Linked DNA regions of Homo sapiens: region 2 is linked to region 1. The links come from fine-mapping of genetic effects on gene expression. Tissue or cell type: thyroid. Region 1 holds a variant in brackets; the other region holds the start of a gene. All regions are shown on one strand. Distances are between the middles of the regions.

Evidence for each region. PIP is the estimated chance that this variant, and not a neighbour inherited with it, causes the effect.
Region 2: it holds the start of GBE1, and the variant in region 1 is fine-mapped to the expression of GBE1 in thyroid (GTEx, PIP above 0.99). The same link has a PIP of 0.9 or more in lung.

The regions. Positions count from the first base shown.
Region 1 is chr3:82,071,471-82,082,189 of GRCh38, reverse strand. The region is part of intron 1 of LINC02008 (long intergenic non-protein coding RNA 2008); the gene reads right to left. Among named protein-coding and RNA genes, the nearest start is that of LINC02008, 91 kb to the right of the region's middle. The variant G/A (reference allele first, on the strand shown) is at 5,581.
Region 2 is chr3:81,757,126-81,766,485 of GRCh38, reverse strand. It overlaps GBE1 (1,4-alpha-glucan branching enzyme 1), which reads left to right and starts at 4,841. Exons shown (of 16, transcript NM_000158.4): 1 at 4,841-5,111. The coding sequence starts at 4,969. RefSeq lists silencers at 4,613-4,712, 5,213-5,292, 7,874-8,168 and enhancers at 4,368-4,976, 4,763-5,052, 5,393-5,562.

The sequences.
Region 1 (10,719 bases):
AATTGGTATCTTTAAACACCTTGCAGGTATTGTCAACCAGGTTTGATTGTAAATATAAGAAATAGTTTAAATTTAGGTGAATGTACCAATATTACTATGCATACATGTTTTCCTTTGTAAATTAATTCAAAACCATAATTCATTCCTTGATGCCCTATCAGTTATAAATAATTAATCTTACTAATCAGGAACATATAAAATAAAGTGTTTCTATACAATAATTTGTCATAGTCTAGATTTTGAATTTTGGAGATGAAATTTGTAACTTACTAGTAAGCCCCCTCTAAATGTTCCAATGGTAACATGTCACAACCTGCCCAAGCTTTTTTCTTCACAATTGTATGCTGCACAGGCAAATTTACTACAAAATACTTCTGCAGAAGCACCTTTAGTGTTTTAGAATTACAACTTCATCCCATGCATACAATCTTTTCAAGTCCCATAATTGTTTGAAAGAAGGTTTTGCTTCTTTGAAAAGTGACATTGCCTACCCCAGGTTGCAACTGATTAAAACTGAGCTCTAATTGAGTGCATTTATTAAAGTTTTCTATTTAAAATAATTGAGATATGGCTCTGCAAGCAGTGGTCCATATCAACTATGTCATATTATAAATGGAATGGAGCTTACGTCATGCCACCTTTAGATAATTTGTGCAATTGTCTGTGAAGTGCTGCTAGACAATCTCTGTGAGTGACTGTTCTTGTCTTTTTATTCAAATAAGCTTTATAATAGGCTATTAAGCTTGTTTTCTAGAGATATACTTCAATAATTTATACAGCATTGCAGTCAAAACTAACCCATCACTTGTTTTTAGCAACGTATCTTCCTAGAAGTTTAATTATTCAGTAAATTCACAGGATGAGATCAACTAAATGTAGAAAATCTCATAATCTCTGTCCCAGAAGTGCTGAAGCACATTTAGTAATGAGAGGAAAAGCTAAAATATTGATAGCTAACAAAAGATAGAGCAAAAGTTATAGCACATATAGTAATAACAAAAAAACACACCACTTTAAAAATATGTTTTTAAAGGTCCTTCAACTTTGATGTAATTGGGCTTTTACCATGTTCTGATCTTTACTACTGATATTCTAAAATCTCACATTTCTCCTCTCCCCCACTGAGATCTGCCCTGGCATGTACTTAGTCAGAGGTGATTTTATATGAAATCTCTTAAAATAGCTCTTTATTGTTTATGATCCACAGATCTGTATCAGAGGCATTGTTCAGTTCAGCACATTGACACCGCACGTAAGGATGGCTTAGATTACCCTGAGATTATCAATGCTCTCCAAAGAGCTGGCTTCAAATCATTCTGGAAGCATCCACAGTAAATATTTCACTATCGACCTAACACTGATTAAAGAGATTGCTATTATTGAACAGAGAGGAGTCAGCTGCCTCAAAGTTTGAATTCTCTCCAAAATAAAGAGTTGTCTTTGATTGCCTTTGACCAACTTCATTTTTTAGGAAAAATCCTTGGGTCATCAGTGAACAAACATACTTTTTGAGACAGAGATATGGGGACAAACTGTCTTCTTTTTCACTACGACATTTTCTGTTTTAACATAATGAAGATTTAGAAAGCTAACTGATAGTCTGAGCTAGCTCTGTAAGTGTTTTCTGATCAGTTAGCCTGGAGTTGTGCCTTCCAAGATGTTACATCAGACAGATTTCCTGAGTTACCCACAGAGACACAGAAGTCACCAAACAGGATTGTTCAAGGGTAGAGAGCTGGAGACACAACAATACCACAGAGGATGTCACAGAACATAGCTTTCATCTCGCCACAGTGTTCTTGTGTAAAACTGTAAAGCTATATGAGACATGGCAATTTCAGTTCACAGAGGTTTAAGGGAATCTTTGTTTCTACCACACGAGACCTTTAATGTGAGTTTGAGGTTCTAATAAATTTAAAATCTCAAAATAAAATCTGGCAACCACATGTATGTTTGGTGTAACGTCCACTGGCATTAATATAACTTAGACTTGAACACACCCATTAGATAGTTTATACGACTAAGTATTTTTAAAACTATCAATACATTTTAATTATATTAGTGTAACCCCCTCCATATGGCTTTTATATAGTCTTATGTAGTCAATAATTTCCATCTACTGAACCCAGTCAATTATTTAAAAAAAAAAGACAATCTTTTCTAATGAAAAAAATTACTTCTCTCTACATTTAACGGAAAAAAAGGTCATTTTGGGGGTTAGGAGTAAAAATAACATTTTTGCTGGTTTCCTTTTAAAATATTGTTTTGCTTCATGTAATTCAGCAAAGAGGCATTTGGTCTCTCAACATAACTGTCTACATGATCATATGAAGAAATTATACCAGTTAAATGTCATGGTAAAAAGTGTGGAAGAAATTCAGATGAAAATTAGCCTGTAAATAATCTTGTATACTCTCAAAGGAAGCACTTACCACCCTGAACACACTTGCGGTGACTACTGGGGTGAACACAATCGTGATCAGTTTGTTGACAGATTCTGATTCATTATAAACTAACCTTCCTGAGAAAGTCGTCACAAGGTTCTCTGGTGAATAGCTTGTGCTGGAAATTATTAGGGTTTCTTATGCAGATAGTTACCCAGCACGTGACCCTAAAACAAATTGCCCCTTCTTCCAGAAGGGAAACTGCCCTGAAATAGATTGCCCATTTATTCACCCACTCCCTAAACCGATGCATGCTGATTGAAAATTCCAGGGCATGACTTTTCCTGGAGCTGTCCTCTATCTTCATTTTAGCTGTCCAGAAAAAGACAGGACATCCAAGCTTTCTCATCCCCTCCTCTTCAGTCCCACAGAAACTGCTGTCATTGTGTTACTTTCTGCTGGCCAGGCAGGTATGAGGCTTCCACTGAGGTGGATGTTAAAACAGCCACATGGGTCAGCAGGCAGATGGAGAAAAGGACTAGGGAAAGCGAAAGAGTGCATGCTTTTTAAAAAGACAGCATACCGCGAGGTCACACATATGCCGCTGGGTGATCTGACACTGCAATACTGACAGTTGTTAGATAGAATTTAAAAGATGGGGGGTTTTGTAAAATTATTTTGGACAGTTCAGTGCTTCTAGATAATTTTATAGGGTGCTCTGACATTTAAACATCTGAAGTAAAACTTCCTTTGAAGGCCTGACAAAGGTATAGTCATTTTATCATAAGCCAAACAATCTTATTTTTATAAGAATAATTTATCAGAACTGTGAGTTCCCTGCTGAATCACTTAAGTGAAACTAAGAGAAATCAGGAAGTGAGGATGAAAGACAGGACGAAAGAAAGTTGGAAACGCAAGGAAATACTGGAAAAAAATAGATACATATTCTACTCAGTAAATGTTTTGTGTCATCTCTGAAAGAATAGTAACCCCGAGAGGCTCCAGAAAGTACAACTCTGCTTGGCAATGATTAGATTGGTGGTTAGACCACCAGCCCTGCAGAACAGTATGACTTATATGCTATTTTCCAATACCAGGATTGGAAATCTAATTTACAGTACCCAGCCCTTTTCCAAACACCAAGGCCTCCATCTAAAGTATGTCATGCTATTAGGAACACAACCATTTAACCTCGATGGCAGCAATTCTTTATGAGCAAGGTTCATCCTTCATTCTCCACAGTTTGGCTAATAGATGGATTCAATAATACTCTTTCAGAATCTGGGTACACTGGGGCTGCTTTTATGCATAGGTAGAGAAGCAATCAACAGCATCTGGTGTCTGAAGCCCAAGACAGCTGACGTCTACAGTGACTCAAATTGCCACACTTTCACTACTTCAAGGAACAGCGTTAAAACCAAAACTATCACACTGAAAATCCTCAGGAGGTGGCATTTAAAACATAAGATATACAAATGGTGCCACTGAGAACTGTACAGGACAGAACCTATAAGGCCAACATTTAAAGCCTCCTTGAAAGCATTTAAAAAGAATATTATTTTCCATAGGAAGACAACATCTTCAGCCATTATCACCCATTAACTCTTTCTCCCTGTATCAGACAGGGTCCAAGCAGAGATACAGAACTAGTGGGAGATAGATATTAAGAGATTTACTGCAGAGAATTGGCTTATGGATTATGGGTGGTGGCCAGGCATGTTCACAAGCCTTCAGGAAGGGCAGGCTGAAAACTCTCAGGCACAAGCTGAAGCTGCTGCTCACGGCCGACACTCCTTCTTTAGAGAAGCCTCAGTTGTACTTTTAAGACCTATCACCTGATTGAATCAGGGCCACTCAGGTGATCTTATTTAAAATCAACTGATTATTCACTTAATCACACCTGCAAAATACAGCAATGCCTTAATTAATGCTTGATTAAATAACTATAGATTGGACGTAAGGCTAGCCAAGCTGACACATAAACCTAACCACTATAATTTCCTATCAAAATGGTTTCAAAGTTGACTGCTTTAGTTTTCTATAGTAATAGTAAAGAAGAAAACTAATAGCCAGGAGAGAAGATGTAGTGACACCCTATGTAGTGTAAGTATCCTCCTAGGTCCCTATCCAGAAATCTGAAATAGACATTTTTCAAAAAGACATGAATAGGCTGGGTACATGGTGGCTCACGCCTATAATCCCAGCACTTTGGCAGGCTGAGGTGGGCAGATCATTTGAGGTCAGGAGTTCGAGGGCAGCCTTGCCAACATGGTGAAACCCTGTCCCTACTAAAAATACAAAAATTAGTAGGGTGTGGTTGTGGGTGCCTGTAATTCCAGCTACTTGGGAGGCTGAGGCAGGAGAATTCCTTGAGCCCGGATAGCTCCACTGCACTCCAGCCCGGATGACATCTCAAAAAATAAAAAATAAATAAAACGAAAAAAAATGATATGAGGATGTAGCTAAAAGAAGAAAGGTTCAACCTACAGGGGATTCACTGTATTTGATAAAGGAGGAAAGCAATATTTTAACATATTAGTGTGCTTTTGTTCCTTGTGATTTTCATTTCCTTTAATTCCTGTTTATTTCCTGGCCCTTTCCCCATTTAGACTAAACTCAGAGCCATCCAGTGTTTCATGGAAGCATTGCAAAATCCCAGTCCTGTGAATACCAGAAGCCAAGGCATAATGAGGAATTCAGAAGAAAAAAACGTCTGCCAGGGATGATTTTCCCTCAACTATATACTAAACTCCAAGATGAGTTAAAATCTGCTTTTATGATTCTGAGGAAAACCGCAGAAGAGTGAGAGACAAATGAGTGAAAAAGAAAGGTAGGGCTTCGTAGGACCACGGTTAACCTATTCTACTGAGTTTTAATTCAAGAAGGGGAGAAATGATAAATATTTCATATGATCTAATAGTAGAATAACCTGTGTTTCTTATTTCATTAGATTTATCCACACATCTGGATAAATGTGTGAAAAAGGAAACAATTTTTTTTAATCTACCATGGGAAAGATCAAAAGAAATATCTTGGAGGACTGTGACCATCCTGTAGTATGTGGACTGAAACTATCCCCATAATATGCTATAAAGGAGCACAGCATTCTCAAAGAGGAGACTTCATTTGGTTAGAAAAATAAATGATATTTATGTGAAATGGTCTTTCCTTGGGGACTATTTCAGTATTTGTTATC[G/A]TGGAACTAATTTAACTTAAAAATTTGTTAGATCAGTGTCCTTTCTACCAACAGGTGACATAGAATATTTATAGCTGATGTCTTCAACACTTCATTCTATAACTTAACAAATATGTTCACCACAGACTACCCTAAATCATGTCAAAGTTTGAATCTGAGGCTTCTAATTAGATGCCCTAATCACTTCATTAGGTATTTCCATAGTTTTAACATTGTAAAATGGCTACACTTTGGGATGATGATAAGGTAAATTCATGCAACAGTTTTATTCCAGAGGAAGTAACATCTGCAGGAACTCTCCGATTGCATGTGCTGTCAGTAAGATGCAGGCCTCAGAGTCATAAAGGCCTGACAACACATAGACCTTGGAGTTTGAACTATAATTTGATGACATGTTGCTGCCATTCCTACCGGTTCATCTTCTAGCTGATGCACTGACTTATCTTAACAAGAACTGTTATATCCTGGTCCAAGTTTGCCTCACTGGGAACTCACAACCAAGGGAACTCAACCTTGTTGAAACTCTTAGTTCCTTACCATTAATGGCAGATTTGGATTGCCTGTGGGATTGCAGCTGATGTGTAACCTCTGCCTCACTCAAGCATATTGTTAGTCCGTAGCCCTGAGTGCAGAAATAATTGACAACCTGCTCTATCTCCTTCTGTATAAGCCTGCAGGGCATAGTCAGCCACGTTAAACAACTGCTAGGTGACTGCTTCAAATATTGCAGGCTTCTACTGAATCCTGCTCAAGGGCAAGAACTTTCTGGAGGAGGAAAAGGAAATCTTTATATCAGTGTTCAAGTTTCTGGTTGCATCACTGATCAGGATGACAGAAAGAAGACTGGATATTCTAAAACAGGAGGCACACCCATCTCAATCCACCGGACATAGACAAAAGATAAAATGGGGCTATGTACATAACATTGCCACTCATGTTGAGCAGCTTTTTAATCTGTGTAGCAGTAGACATGTTGTTTTTTTAAAAAATAAATTCATATACAAAGAGAACCAGAAGATAGGCAGAAAACAGACTCTTCCAATTTGGATAACTTAATTTAAATGTTTTCCCTTTCCAATTTCTTTTCCAAAGTGTAAAAATATTTTGCCACAGTATAATGTTCTTTTATTAGTTATTGGTCACTACACTAGTCATCTACTGGTACATAACAAACTACCCCAATGCTTAGTGACTTAAAATAATTTATTATTCCTTATGTTTCTGAGCGTTGACAGGCTCATCTGGGTGATTCCTGCTTAGGGTCTTTCACGTGACTGCAGTCAGATGACAGACGAAATTGAAGTCATTTGAAGACTTCTTCACCTATATGTCTAGTATCTAAGCTGGGAGGAATAGAACAATTAGGAGTTGATGGAGGTCTCTTTCTCTCACTTTCTATCCCTGGGGCCTGTCCACATGGCTAGCTTGGGCTTCTTCACAACATAGAATGTTCAAGGTGTTGGATTTCTTATCTAGTGCCTAAGAGGGTCTTCTCAGAGGAAGGAAAATGAATCCACCAATTCTTGAGGCCTGGGTCCAGAAACAGAAACAGCATCACTAATGCAGTATCTGTCTGCATTCAAGGGGAGAGGTCTCTATATCTTAATAGAAGGAATGTCAAAAAAGTGGCATTTTAATCCAACATAGCTACCAATAACAGCAAGTCATTTTTTTTCCATTAGTGTATTTTCCATTTAAAGTACCAGTTAATGTTCCCTAATGATTAATAATGACTTTTTGAGAGTTACATACGCAAATACTTTATTTGTGACCGGTATGTGATTAGAGCATTGTAGGTTATGATAAGTTGAAGTCATTTTGACATAATTTATCAGTAAGGCCATCTATGGTACGCATTCAGAGTGCAGGTTCAAGTAAACACCCTTATAGTTCACTAGTATCATGTACATTATATATTTTACATAATATAGACTTTATTTTTATTTGCTGTAAGTAAATATTACATAACACCAACTTCAATGGATTCTACAATATGAAATTTCCCAAACCTATAATCCCCTCTCTAAAAATGGAAAGAAGATATGCATATGTTTATATTTCATAGTTACCTAAAACACGCACGTATTATTCACACAAGAGCATGTTCAAATGTAAACAAATGGTATCAATTAAAATACATTTGGCTGCAAATAATATAATGGCCAAATGTCAATGGTTTACATATAGGGATATAATTATTTCTCACAATAAGAAGTTTGAAGACAGGTGGTTCCAGAGTGGCAGCAATGATATTACTACTAACACTGGGGTCTTTTAATTTATTTCTCTGTCCTTTTAAATATGTTGATTTTTCTTCCTTAGTTTTCTCACTTCATAGTCAAAAAATGGCTTTCACTGCAACAGGCATTATTGTCTTATTCCACATCCCAGATCAGTGGGAAATAAAAGGCAAAACAAAATTTTTCTTTATCCGTGAAAATAAACCTTCCCAGAAACTCTAGTAGATATTCCCCTTTATTTCCCAGGCCAAAACTAGGATATATGCTCACCTCAAACCACCTCAAACAAGGCCAGACCTTGTTTTTACTCAATTCAAAGGGCCTCTATGTGATTGATGTAATATCTTAAACGAGATTTCATAAGCAATAAGAAATGAGAGAATGGCTTTTATAGGCCATGAACAGAATCTATTAATGAGTTTTTGGTGGATTTATATTACAAAATGACATTGTTTTGTCATAGTTCCCAACGAGGACAGTGGTCTTCTTTGTGAGTCTCTAAATGACCCAGTCTTATCCATGTTAGTGCTGTCTCTGACAGTTGCCTCCTGATTTTACTAAGTAAAAACTTACCAACCTTCCTGTACAGGAGGCATTTATTTGACAGACTTGCATAATCTATCTACGTATAATTTCTGAAAGGGCTTTGATTTTTCCATGACAGGTATAAGCTAGAAAATAGAGGTAATCTACAAATACAGCACATGGTACTCCAAACTGGCAAAACTTTGGTCTTTCTGTCCTTAGGAACTGCATTGCTACTGTCTCCTCACCCTAAAATATGAAATTGAGATCCAAGTTCCCTGGCTTGAGTAGAACCTAATAATTCATAATTATCATTGACCAGAACAATCACATACCTAATTAAAGCCATATGATGTCACTCTAATGCAAATTCTGACATTTGTAAATTGGTTCCAATGAGACAACCAAGGCAAATTTTGAAGCTAAAATAAAAATCTGGGCTACTTTTAAAGATTCATTTATTCAGTAAAGTCAAAGTATAGCTTTGCTAAATGTTTCTAAACCTCTTCTCTTGGGGCATACATTCACTAGGGCTTTAAATGACTGTTAGGAACCTGTTTTTCTAGTTGGTTTCAATGTTCAACTAGTGTTTTCTAGCCCTGTACTATTTTAGTTTTCCTAGAAAAGAATTGTTATTCTCTCTCCTCAGTGAGGTACATATTAAGAGGTCTGATGTCTCTACCCTCCTCTTTTTACTTAAATTACGATAGTGGAAAGGTGTCCCCTTTTCTCCACTCAGCAAGCATGTGTTCAGCATCAACTCTGCCAGAAACCTTATCAGCATCCAGGCAGATAGGCTCTCTCCCCTCACACAGCAAGTGATTCAATCCAATGTAAAGAACATAAGAAACACCTTGAGGGAGAGAAGAGTCAGTTAAAAAAAAAAAGATAGAAATATTATCAAGGTATATAGTCAACACAGAAATTTCAGAATGTTTAGTAAATGTTTACATGAGAATTGAGTGGCTATCAATATCAAGGTCTTTATGTAAAGGACCATTTAGTGGATAGAAGAGAAAATATTTTAATTTTAAGGGACACAGATTCCTTTATGTGTTGAAAAAAAATGAGTCCAGAACTTATCTTTTAAAATGCTAATAATACTATTGAAAATCAAAATATTAGTGAGATGATTTGATAAAAAAGGAAAATTAAACACCAACATCTATGGGATAGGGTTTACTGGAATAGGTAGATTCACTTCCAAATAATTGATGGATAAGAGAGAAAAAAATTATGTAGGTATGAGTATTTTAACAAGCTTACCAAAAATGTATTCAAATAAAGTAAAATGCACTTTTCCAACTAGGAAACATTTTTAAATTGGTAAAACTGGCTTACAGAAAATACTGAAAACCCCATAAAGTATTCTCAGAAAATTCACTGGGTTGTGGCGAGGAGATCCTCACATCCGAAGAATGAACTTTTTAAATTGATCTTAGTTTCTTTCCTTTCTCCCTCTCCTTATTTCTGATCCTAAGAGTCATGGCCTCATTTACGTAAAACTCCAAGCAGAATAAAGGTTTTAGGAAGGTAGACATTTGACAGTAGTTAATGAAGCCAACTCCCACTCTAGAGATATTCCAAGATTTTGATTGCCAAGCCCTGAGCATCTGCATCTTTGCTTTACTTGGGGGTTTTTGCAGGATCTGTTGACCAGGGGGCTGACAGAATGCTAAATATGCAGACAGTACAAGGCATTTTTTTTCCTTCAAGTTCTACCTAGCATGCTCAATCCCCAGTTCTCCTCCCTGCCACCATATGAAGCAGAAAATGCTGGTAATTAATGTTGGCAACTCTCTAGACACATGCTACCCTAGAAACCTCAAGGCAACTGCACATGCACTTTGCAAAGCTTAGCAACTGTCCTGAGCCACCTAAGAAGGAAATGCAGAATGAAGGACTGCCTTCAAACACCTCAGGGACTAGACAGACTCAACACCTCAACGGATGACATTTGAACAGTAGTAGTGACTCATTATGGTCCAGGAGTAGTGGCTCTGCCCTGAATGGACCACAGATGTCTACTTGGGAGAAAAGAAGGGAACTAAATGGTGAAAGACACATTGCACACTGACAATGCATTATCGTTGCTAAGTTGGCATCATACGTGGTAAGTACTAACCTTCAATGTCAAAAAACATGGAAATAAATACAACTGCTAATGTCTTATCTTTAAGCAAGTTATATAAATCATCATCTTGGTTTACGCTAAGTCATGTCATAAGATAAATTACTTTGGCCCACAAATAGAAGGAAATTTTACAAAAATGTAAATAATAAGTAGTCAAATATTTTTTAAAACTCTATTCACAAATTATCTTACCAATCTTTCAAAAAAATTGAAATCAGTTTAATCATTCAGTGAATATAA
Region 2 (9,360 bases), 320 kb after region 1:
GTGATGCGTAGAGCTGTGGCAGCCATTTTATGACCATAAGGAGACAAACTTGAGGTCAAAAGCACATACGATGAGAAAATGAAACAACCATAGACCCTGGGTCCTCCATCACATTTTAAAAGATAGTAGGGCTAACACCGATCACTCTCTTTTTTTCTGAAAGTTCTCCTTTTTCTTGTCAGAAGCCACATTCCCCTTTAACACTACTCCTTGTTCTTAAAAGTTACTTATTTGGCTGGTCACAGTGGCTCACACCTGTAATCCCAGCACTCTGGGAGGCCAAGGCCAGCAGATCACTAGGTCAGGAATTTGAGACTAGTCTGGCCAACATAGTGAAACCCCATCTTTACTAAAAATACAAAAGATTAGCAGGGTGTGGTGGTGTGCACCTGAAATCCCAGCTACTCGGGAGGCTGAGACAGGAGAATCGCGTGAACCCAGGAGGCAGAGGTTGCAGTGAGCCGAGGTCACGCCATTGCACTCCAGCCCGGGGGACAGTGCTAGACCCTGTCTCAAAAAAAAAAAAAGTTACTTCTTTTTTCTTTCTGCTCTCTGATTTTCTTTTTCATTGCTAATGATTTTCAACGAGGGGGATATGTAATTTTAAAAGGTATATTTATATAGTCTAGTTTATCTTTAGTTGGTATAAATCATTTGCCTTTTAAAAAGCATATTTAGTATTATTTTATCCTTCAGAATCTTTTTAAAAATAGCTTTGAGACATAATTCACATACCATACAATTCATCCATTTAAAGTGTACAATTAGTTTTTAGTATATCCACAGAGCCATGAAACCATAACCACAACTAATTTTAGAAAATGTGTACCAAGAAGAAATCGCATATCCACTTGCACTCACTCTTCGTTTCCCCTGCCCTCCAGCCCTAGGAAGCTAAAAATCTGCTTTCTTTCTCTGTAGATTTGCATATTCTGAACATTCCATATACATGGAATCATATAATATGTGGTCTTTTGTGAGTGGTTTCTTTCACTTGCTATGTTTTTAAGGTTCAACTGTGATGTAGCACATTATCAGTAACTCTTTGGCTTTGTAATGCAAACTATTGAAAAGCAAACATGTGACATGAGACTCAAATACCAAGAAAGAAAGGTTTCAAAATATTTATTGAGGATCTCCTATTTGCCACCGTTAGCTAGTAAACGCATATGGATCATTCTCTAATTGTTATCTTCATTCCTACATGATCTATTAGGCACCAGAATTACATTTCCAGCTGCCATATTGACTTGGGTATCCAGGAGCTGACACCTTGAACTTAGTTCTCCCTCTTTCAAGGCCTTCTTTATTTTTGCTAGACAGAATTCCCCCAGGCTCAGAAGTTCAATCTTTAATTCCCTTTTCACTTTCATATCCAATCAGTCACCAAATCTTATAAACTCTATTTCTCAAATATTTTCTCTGTTTTGGTGTGTCAAAAATGTTATGGGTTGAATTGTATTTCTCCACAAAAAGATACACTGAAGTCTTAACCTAACATTACCTCAGAATATGACCTTATTTGGAAATATAATAATTGCAGATATAATTAGTTAAGATGAGGTCATACTGAAATAGGGTGTGTCCTTCATTCAATAAGGCTGGTGACCTAATAAAAAGAACACTATGTGAAGAGACAGAGACACAGGAAAATGCCATGTCACAATGGAGGCAGAGATCCAAATGATGCAACTATAAGCCAAGAAATGCCAAAGATTGCTGGCCATCACCAGAAGCTAGGAGAGAGGCATGGAATAATTCTCCTTCAGAGCCCCCAGAAAGAACCAAACCTGTGGACACCTTGATTTTTAGCCCCTAGAACTAGGGTAAGGTGACAAATTTTTGTTGCTTAAATTACCTAGTGTGTGGTACTTAATCACTACAGCCCTAGGTAACTAATACAGACACTAAATGACTTCATAATAGTTTAGGCATTCATTATATCATGCATCCCAAATCTTTATTTCATCATTTTATCTGCTACCCCAGACCAAGCCATCATCATTTCATGCCTAGGCAATGTTAATCACCTCCTAATTGTCTCCCTTGTCTCCCACAAGAATGGCACCCCTATTGCCATTCTTGTATCCTTATAATTCATTTGCCACATAGAATATTTTAATAATTAAACCATATCATATCAGTGTTCTGCTGAAAACTCTCCAATAGCATCCCTTAAATGGACATTAAAGGGCCTATATGAACGAACAGCTGCCTAGCTCTTGCACCACAATTCCTGCCACTCCTCATTACACACCGGGTATGCTAGATTTTTTTTTTTTTTTAAAAGACCAATTCAATTCCTCCATTGCACGAACTCTGCCATTCTGGAATGCTCTTCCTCTCATGGCTCATTTCTTCTTGTCATCACACTTCAGCTTAAATGTCAGTTCTGAACGGCCTTTCTTGACGACCGGAACTAACACAGATATTTGCTCAGTTTTAATTCTCGACAATGCACTTACCACTATCTGACATTGTTTTGTATTATTTTATGTATTTCACTGGTAATTGTGTCTCCTCTCCCTCCTACCCCCAATAGAGTATGACAACTGGGACTTGTCTTATCATTTATCCACAGTACGTGGGAAAATGGCCGGCACATGGGACTTCAATAAATATGTGCTCAATGGTGAACCACCTAGGTAGGCAGATATGTACGCTAGGATCGTGCTCGTGGGGAGCTTAGGTTCTAAAGGGAAAGGTCAATAAATAGGAGAAAAACAAACACCTAGATTCTGTTAACTGTTGCATAGAAGAGATTGAAGTTATACAGAAGACACTGAGGAGTCTATAATCAGAAGTTTCTCAGGTATGAGGTGACATTTTTGCTGAGGCTGGAATGAAGGCTTGGAAAAAATTAAGCAAGTAGAGCTCAGCTCCCTGAAAATTTCCAACAGAGAGAACAGCAAGCAAATAATCTTAGAGGCTATTATACAACAAATTCACTGAGTTCCAGGAAAGTCAGTGTGACTAGAGCATAGTAAAACTGGAAAATGATGAGAAAAGTGGCTGGAAAGGTAGTCAGGGTCCAGATTATACAAGCCTTGTTAGAGAATGATAAGCTGTTTCTATTTTACCCTAAGTGAAATACTATGCTATTTAAGTTGCTAAATGACATCGTCTGATTTACTCAGTGTAGAGTCTCACCAAACTGTGTCCCCAACCACCAGCATCAGAATCACTTCTGAGCTTGTTAAAAATGCAATCTGAAGCACCACATCGGAACTCAATTAAGATCCCTAGGTGATTCATATGCACATTAAAGTGTGAGAAACACTGGTACAGAGAATGGAGTAGAGGTGAGAAAGAGTAGAAGAGGGGAAGTCAGTTAGAGAGCTACATTCTGGTCCAAGTGAAGGAAAACAGTGGCCTGCATAAGAGTGACAGCAGGAAGGATGAGAAGACGGATTCTAGGTCACGTTTTGCAGACAGTTTGTTTAGGTCTCCTAGCCAGCTAAATGGAAATCTCAGTAGACAGGCAGTGATACAAGCCTGGGTTTCTGAAAAAAGTTTAGGCTTGGAGATGTAGATCTGTGGGTCTGTTATTAATAGTTGTCCTGCTTCGGGTTTTTATTTTTTTTTAATTTTCTTCCTTTTTTAGTGCTTTATATTTTACAAATGTCTGCAGCAGTTTTTTGTCATCTTTATGGAAAACAAGGCACGTCTTAAAGTCGTTCAAGTCCTTCACTTTTTCACACTGAGGTCTGTCTTCATATCCACTTATCTTTCAAGTCTATGAAACCCCTTATAAAAACTTTCCTTTGAAATATTTTAAAATTCAAGGCCCACGGCTGATTAATACTGTTTCTCCTCCATAACCCCTAGGATCCTCCAGTTCTGGGTTTTAACAAGAAAAATATCCTCAATCCTCTCTAGTTTCTAGGTGTAAAGCAGCTTGGACCCTCCTGGGTTTGGTGGGTCCATCTCTCTTGGAGTCCAACTCTGTATTCCTAAAAAGCAATTATTGAAATAGAAGCTAGTCAGTTAATGGCAATAAAAGAAGGGAATTCCAAGTGGGAGCTTCCCAAGCCAAGAGGAAGAGAGGTTTCTTGCCTTATCACTGTAAGTGGCAGAGTGGAGTTCCAATTCAATGATATCATTTGTGTTATCAAAGGTAGTTTAATCGTTGAAAAGCTTGTTAACAATTATAAACACAGGCAAATGCCTTTTCCTTTTTGGCCTTACGGAGAATGAGAAAAGTTCTTCCCATGGCTAAAATTCTTAGCTGTTGGTAATGCAGAAAAGAGTACCAGAACAGCAGAATTCCAACGGTATTCCAGGATTCTGTGTCTTGGTTAATTTTAAATTCACGTGACCTGGCAAACTTAGGAGAGTCCTGGTTGTAAGAGGTATTAACATTTTCAGCAGTAGTACTCTAGCTACACTTGACTGTTCCCCTCTCTGTGAATTTACATGATATGTTTGAAATACTGCCCCTCAAAAGTCTCAGAACTTTGAGAAATACGGTCCTTTCCAAAAAAACCCCTTATGTCCAATTTGAAGGGGTCGCTGTCAGTGGGTGCTTAAGTGGGTAAAGAAAAGCCAAGAATATGTCAGGGTGAGGAAGGCCAAGGCTGAGCGAGGTCAGCTTGGGACCCACCTCCTAGAATGACCTCCGCCAGCAGGAAAAAACCGTTAAGGGGAGGAAAGGGCAGGTCCCTGCGGCCTCCAGGTGCCAGCCGCGTGAGTGGGCGGAGAGGCCTCGGTGCCTCCTACCCGCTCCGGACGTGCGTCCCGGCATCACCCCGGGATCCGCTCCTCCCCGCTGGCGGGGGGAGAAAGGGCAGGAGGCCTTCCGTCCCGGCTATAAAGGGCCCCGGACCGCCGCGGCTCGCCTCGGCTTGCCTCGACACGCCTAGGCGCCCTCCGGCTCCGCCCTAGCCGCCGCGTCCCAGCTAGAGCTCCAGCGCCCGCTCAGGCCCCACTCGACCTCTCGGGCCTCGGCTACTTGGACTGCGGCGGAATATGGCGGCTCCGATGACTCCCGCGGCTCGGCCCGAGGACTACGAGGCGGCGCTCAATGCCGCCCTGGCTGACGTGCCCGAACTGGCCAGACTCCTGGAGATCGACCCGTACTTGAAGCCCTACGCCGTGGACTTCCAGCGCAGGTACCGCCGGAATCCCACCACCCCCACTTAGACAGGCAGCCCGCCTCCCAGGAGCCGTCTCGGGACACGGGCCGCCCCTCGGCCCTCGCGCGCCAACCCCGCCCCAGGCGGGGAGGAACCTGAGTGGGCGGGGCTCGGGGTGACTCGGGTAACCGGGTTCTGTGGCTTCCGTAGTGGCAGGTTTGACAGCGCTGGTGCCCGGAGCGGGCGCTGAAGAAACTTCTTTCCTCATCCCCTTTCCCCTCTGTTCTAATCAGCGGTCTTGCGCCATAGGGTACGTGCTGTGGCTCCAACACTTATTCCCCAGAGTGCTGCTGGGGAGTGACTCACCGCCGCTGCAGGTTTTCTGACTTTGGCACCCACTAGCGTGGGCCTGTGGAGTAACGTGGGCATAACTCCTGGCACGTGTAATTACGCATTTAAAACTTTCTAGTTTATTTCATAGCAAATGTTGTGATTTTATATCTAAGAGGATTCCTTCAGGCAGACACTATATCCTTTTGTTTTTTCCTTGCTAATATTCCTCATTTAGGGGAAGATTACACCTACATTGATCAATTTTTTCTCCCCTTGGATCAACATTGAGAAGTTAAATGTACATCAACATTTGTCCGTGTGTGACTTTAACCATCTTGAAGAGGGAGAAAGGTCAGGAAAGCAACTTTTACAGGCCAATGTCGTTTTAGCTTGTCTTCTACCATTGTGTACCATACAACTTTAGTTACTGGGCTAATAATTCTATTCATAAGTTCCACTAAAAAGGTACAGGTCTTTTTCTGTTGTCGTTGTTGTTTGAAGTAAAAGAGCTATTATACAAGTTGTAATAGTTATACTTGTGAGGTTACCCCATTTTGATTTAATAGTTTCTCCCCTTTTAGGAGAGACACTGCAGAATGGAAACTATCCTGGCAACAGAATATACATGGCCAATTTTTCGAGTGATGGAAAACATCCAACTAGTTAACTGGCATGAAGGAGCGTTGAGAGTAATGAAAATGGGTTGATTTGGAGTTTGAAAAAAGCCCAGCAAATTGTTTGTGTCCTAGCATTTTCAGGTATTAAATGCATTCAAATCAGCAAGTGTTTATTGAGGAACTCCTATAAATAAAACACTGCTCTAGGGATTGTAAGGGATGTGAAGTTTCATTCTTGAGCTTGTATATAGTAGTGAATGAGGCCTCTGTAAAATAATCACCTTGAGCTGTCCCTCACTTAATCAGATGATTATGCTCTTATATAAACCATATGAGGAGCAGCCTTGTGAAATTGTTTTCAGAATTTACAGTATATGCTTTCAGAGAAACTTAGTGCATAATCGTCATAGGTTTAAGGTTGGATTTGATTTAGAAATAGTCAGAAAAAATTTAGAACAAAAGATAGTGATTAAAGGTAGTGGTTAGATTTTTTTTTTGATGTCCTTGTAACCATGACATTAATTTACCTGTGTGCTTTGTAAAAGGACACTTAAGATATTTATTAAAGAAGAGTTGTGGAAATGTTTTATCTACACCCCCTTCCTTTTTTTTTTAAATGACACAAACAGATTAACATTCTTTATTAAGTGTTTCTTTCATGTACTTTATTTCCAACTCCACTGGGATTGAAGCATTTATAATCTTCTTTCATGGTTTGCCAAAACTAATGAAGGGAACAAAGGCCAAGATAAAGAAGGGAAGAGAATCCAGTGTGCTTGGTGAAAAGTCTCGTCCAGTGGGCCCTCATGCCTCACTCTGACCCGGATTTTACTTTTGTCCTTGGTTCTGAGTAATGGCCATTTGCTAGCATACATGTTCCATTTAGGCATATCAAATAGTAATTTGGCATTTGTTAGTGGTAACTTCTATTGTTAACACTTGAAGAATAAAACATTTTTCCTTCATACAATCTGGTCTTAGTTCCTTGTCCAATTTTCCATTTATTTCTGATAATCCATTTGGACTGTGTGTCTTTGGCCTAACACAAATACATAACCAGTCAAACACTTAGGTGCAAAGTATGCTTACTAAGGAGTGAAGAAAATTTGAGGTACAAACAACAGTATATAATTAAGGTGATGAAGAAGGAAATTTCTCTTTGATGGACTGTCTCATCCTTCCCCAACAGATATCTTTTGATTTGAAATTTTTTGGATGTTCCCTTAGGATGTTTTGGATGTTCCTTCCCTTCTTTACCTTGGCCTTTTCCCCTTCTGTATTAGTCCGTTTTCATGCTGCTGATAAAGACATACCTGAGACTGGGCAATTTACAAAAGGAAGAGGTTTATTGGACTTACAGTTCCAAGTGGCTGAGGATGCCTCGCAATCATGGCAGAAGGTGAAAGTCATGTCTCACATGGTGGCAGACAAGAGAAGAGAGCTTGTGCAGGGAAACTCCCCTTTTTAAAACCATCAGGTCTCGTGAGACTTACTTACTATCAGGAGAACAGCGTGGGAAAGACCTGCCCCCATGATTCAGTTACCTCCCATCAGGTCCCTCCCACAACACGTGGGAATTCAAGATGAGATCTGAGTGGGGACACAACCAAACCATATCACCTTCATTAGTTGTTCTTTTCACCTTCTGTACCTGTGAGAATTTTGAATCAAGTGTAGAGGATTAATGAGTTACTCTGCTATAAAATAAAAATTAGTACATTATTAGCATGACTGACCACCTCCATGTTGTCTCATTGATGACCTCCCAAAATAGCATTTTCCACTTGATTTTTCTACCTTTTATTTAGTTATTTACTTGTTGTTACACTACAATTAGTTGTTATAATTCCAAAATCTTAGTGCTTTAAAACAACATTTAATTGTTCCCATATTACATGTCAGCATGAGTCAGCCAGAGGGCCCTCCTCATGGCAGTCACTCAAAAATCTAGGCTTATGAAGGATTTGTTTTGAAACATGCTTCTGTAGAGGTGGTCACAGTGCAAAGAGAAGCATGTTGAACTATGCACTATTTCTTACAGCTTTTGCCTAGCAGTGAGTCCATTCTGCTGATACGTTACATTGGCCAGTGCCCATCAGCTTGCCATGTGGGTGAAACAGAGAATTGGCATTTGTGAACATTGTCAAAACAACACAATTTAATAATACTACTTTATACCCTCTGTTTAATGTTTATAAAGTACTTTCAGATCCGGTATTTAATGTAATCCTCATAACAAAACCATGAGGTAGACAGACGGTGGGCATTTTTCCTGTTTTGCAGATGAAGAAACTAAGTGATGGGCTTGAGCATATATGGCATAAGTAAGTGCTGCAACTGTGATTAATCTTTCTTTACTGAAACTGTTCTCAACCAGTTCACAGACAACTTCATGATAATTTAGGGATCCCTCTTTTCTTTATCTCTAGCATTGTACATGTTGGACTATTTCTTGGCTCTTTGAAGCCATAATCTTGCTTTTCTTTCATTTTCTCAGCCTCTTTTTGACCATTTAATGTAAGAGATTTTCAAGGTTCTTCCCTGGGATCATTTATGTATTTCTATTGTATATTTTCTCCCTAGACATTCTCATCCATCCCATGGATTCCATCTATCTACTGAGGCTGCCCACATCTGTCTCCACTCTAGATCTTTCTCCTTATCTTGGACTTATTTATATCTTCATTTTGATGTTTTATAAATACAAATCTCAACATGTATAAAACTGAACTTAACAGATTTTCATTCCAAACATGTTTGTCCCTGTCAACCCAATCGCAGTGTCTGGAATCTTCCTCTACCAGCTGCTCAAACCTAAAAGGTAACGAGTGATTTCTAATTACTCCCGTCTCCTCCTAGACCTTTGAGTCTAGTCAATTGTAGCCCCTAACTTTTAAGTATGTAGCATGCTGCCTTCCTACTGCTGCCATCCTAGTTCAGGTTGCTAGCATCTCTAGTATGGTTTACAGAAACAACCTCATAGCTGTTGTTCTTTTTTCAAATCTTCACTCCATTCTAACTTCTCCACTCCTCTTCATTCCAAACAGAGTAAGTAGAATGGATTTTGAAATAAACAAATCTGATCATGGTACTCCTCTGCTTAAACCCTTTCAACCATTCCTCATTTCTCTTGAGTTCTGTACAGCCTCCTTCCCATAACTTAGAAGATTCTGCATTATCTGGTCCCTGTTGACCTTTTCAGCCTCCCTCTCGGTACCATCTAACCAGAGGGCCATAAAGGGAGAGGGCAGCTTGGATCTCTGGGGACCATTCTGTAAAGGTACCAGAATACCAGTAAAATAAATTAGAAACATGATATCCATTTCCCACATGCA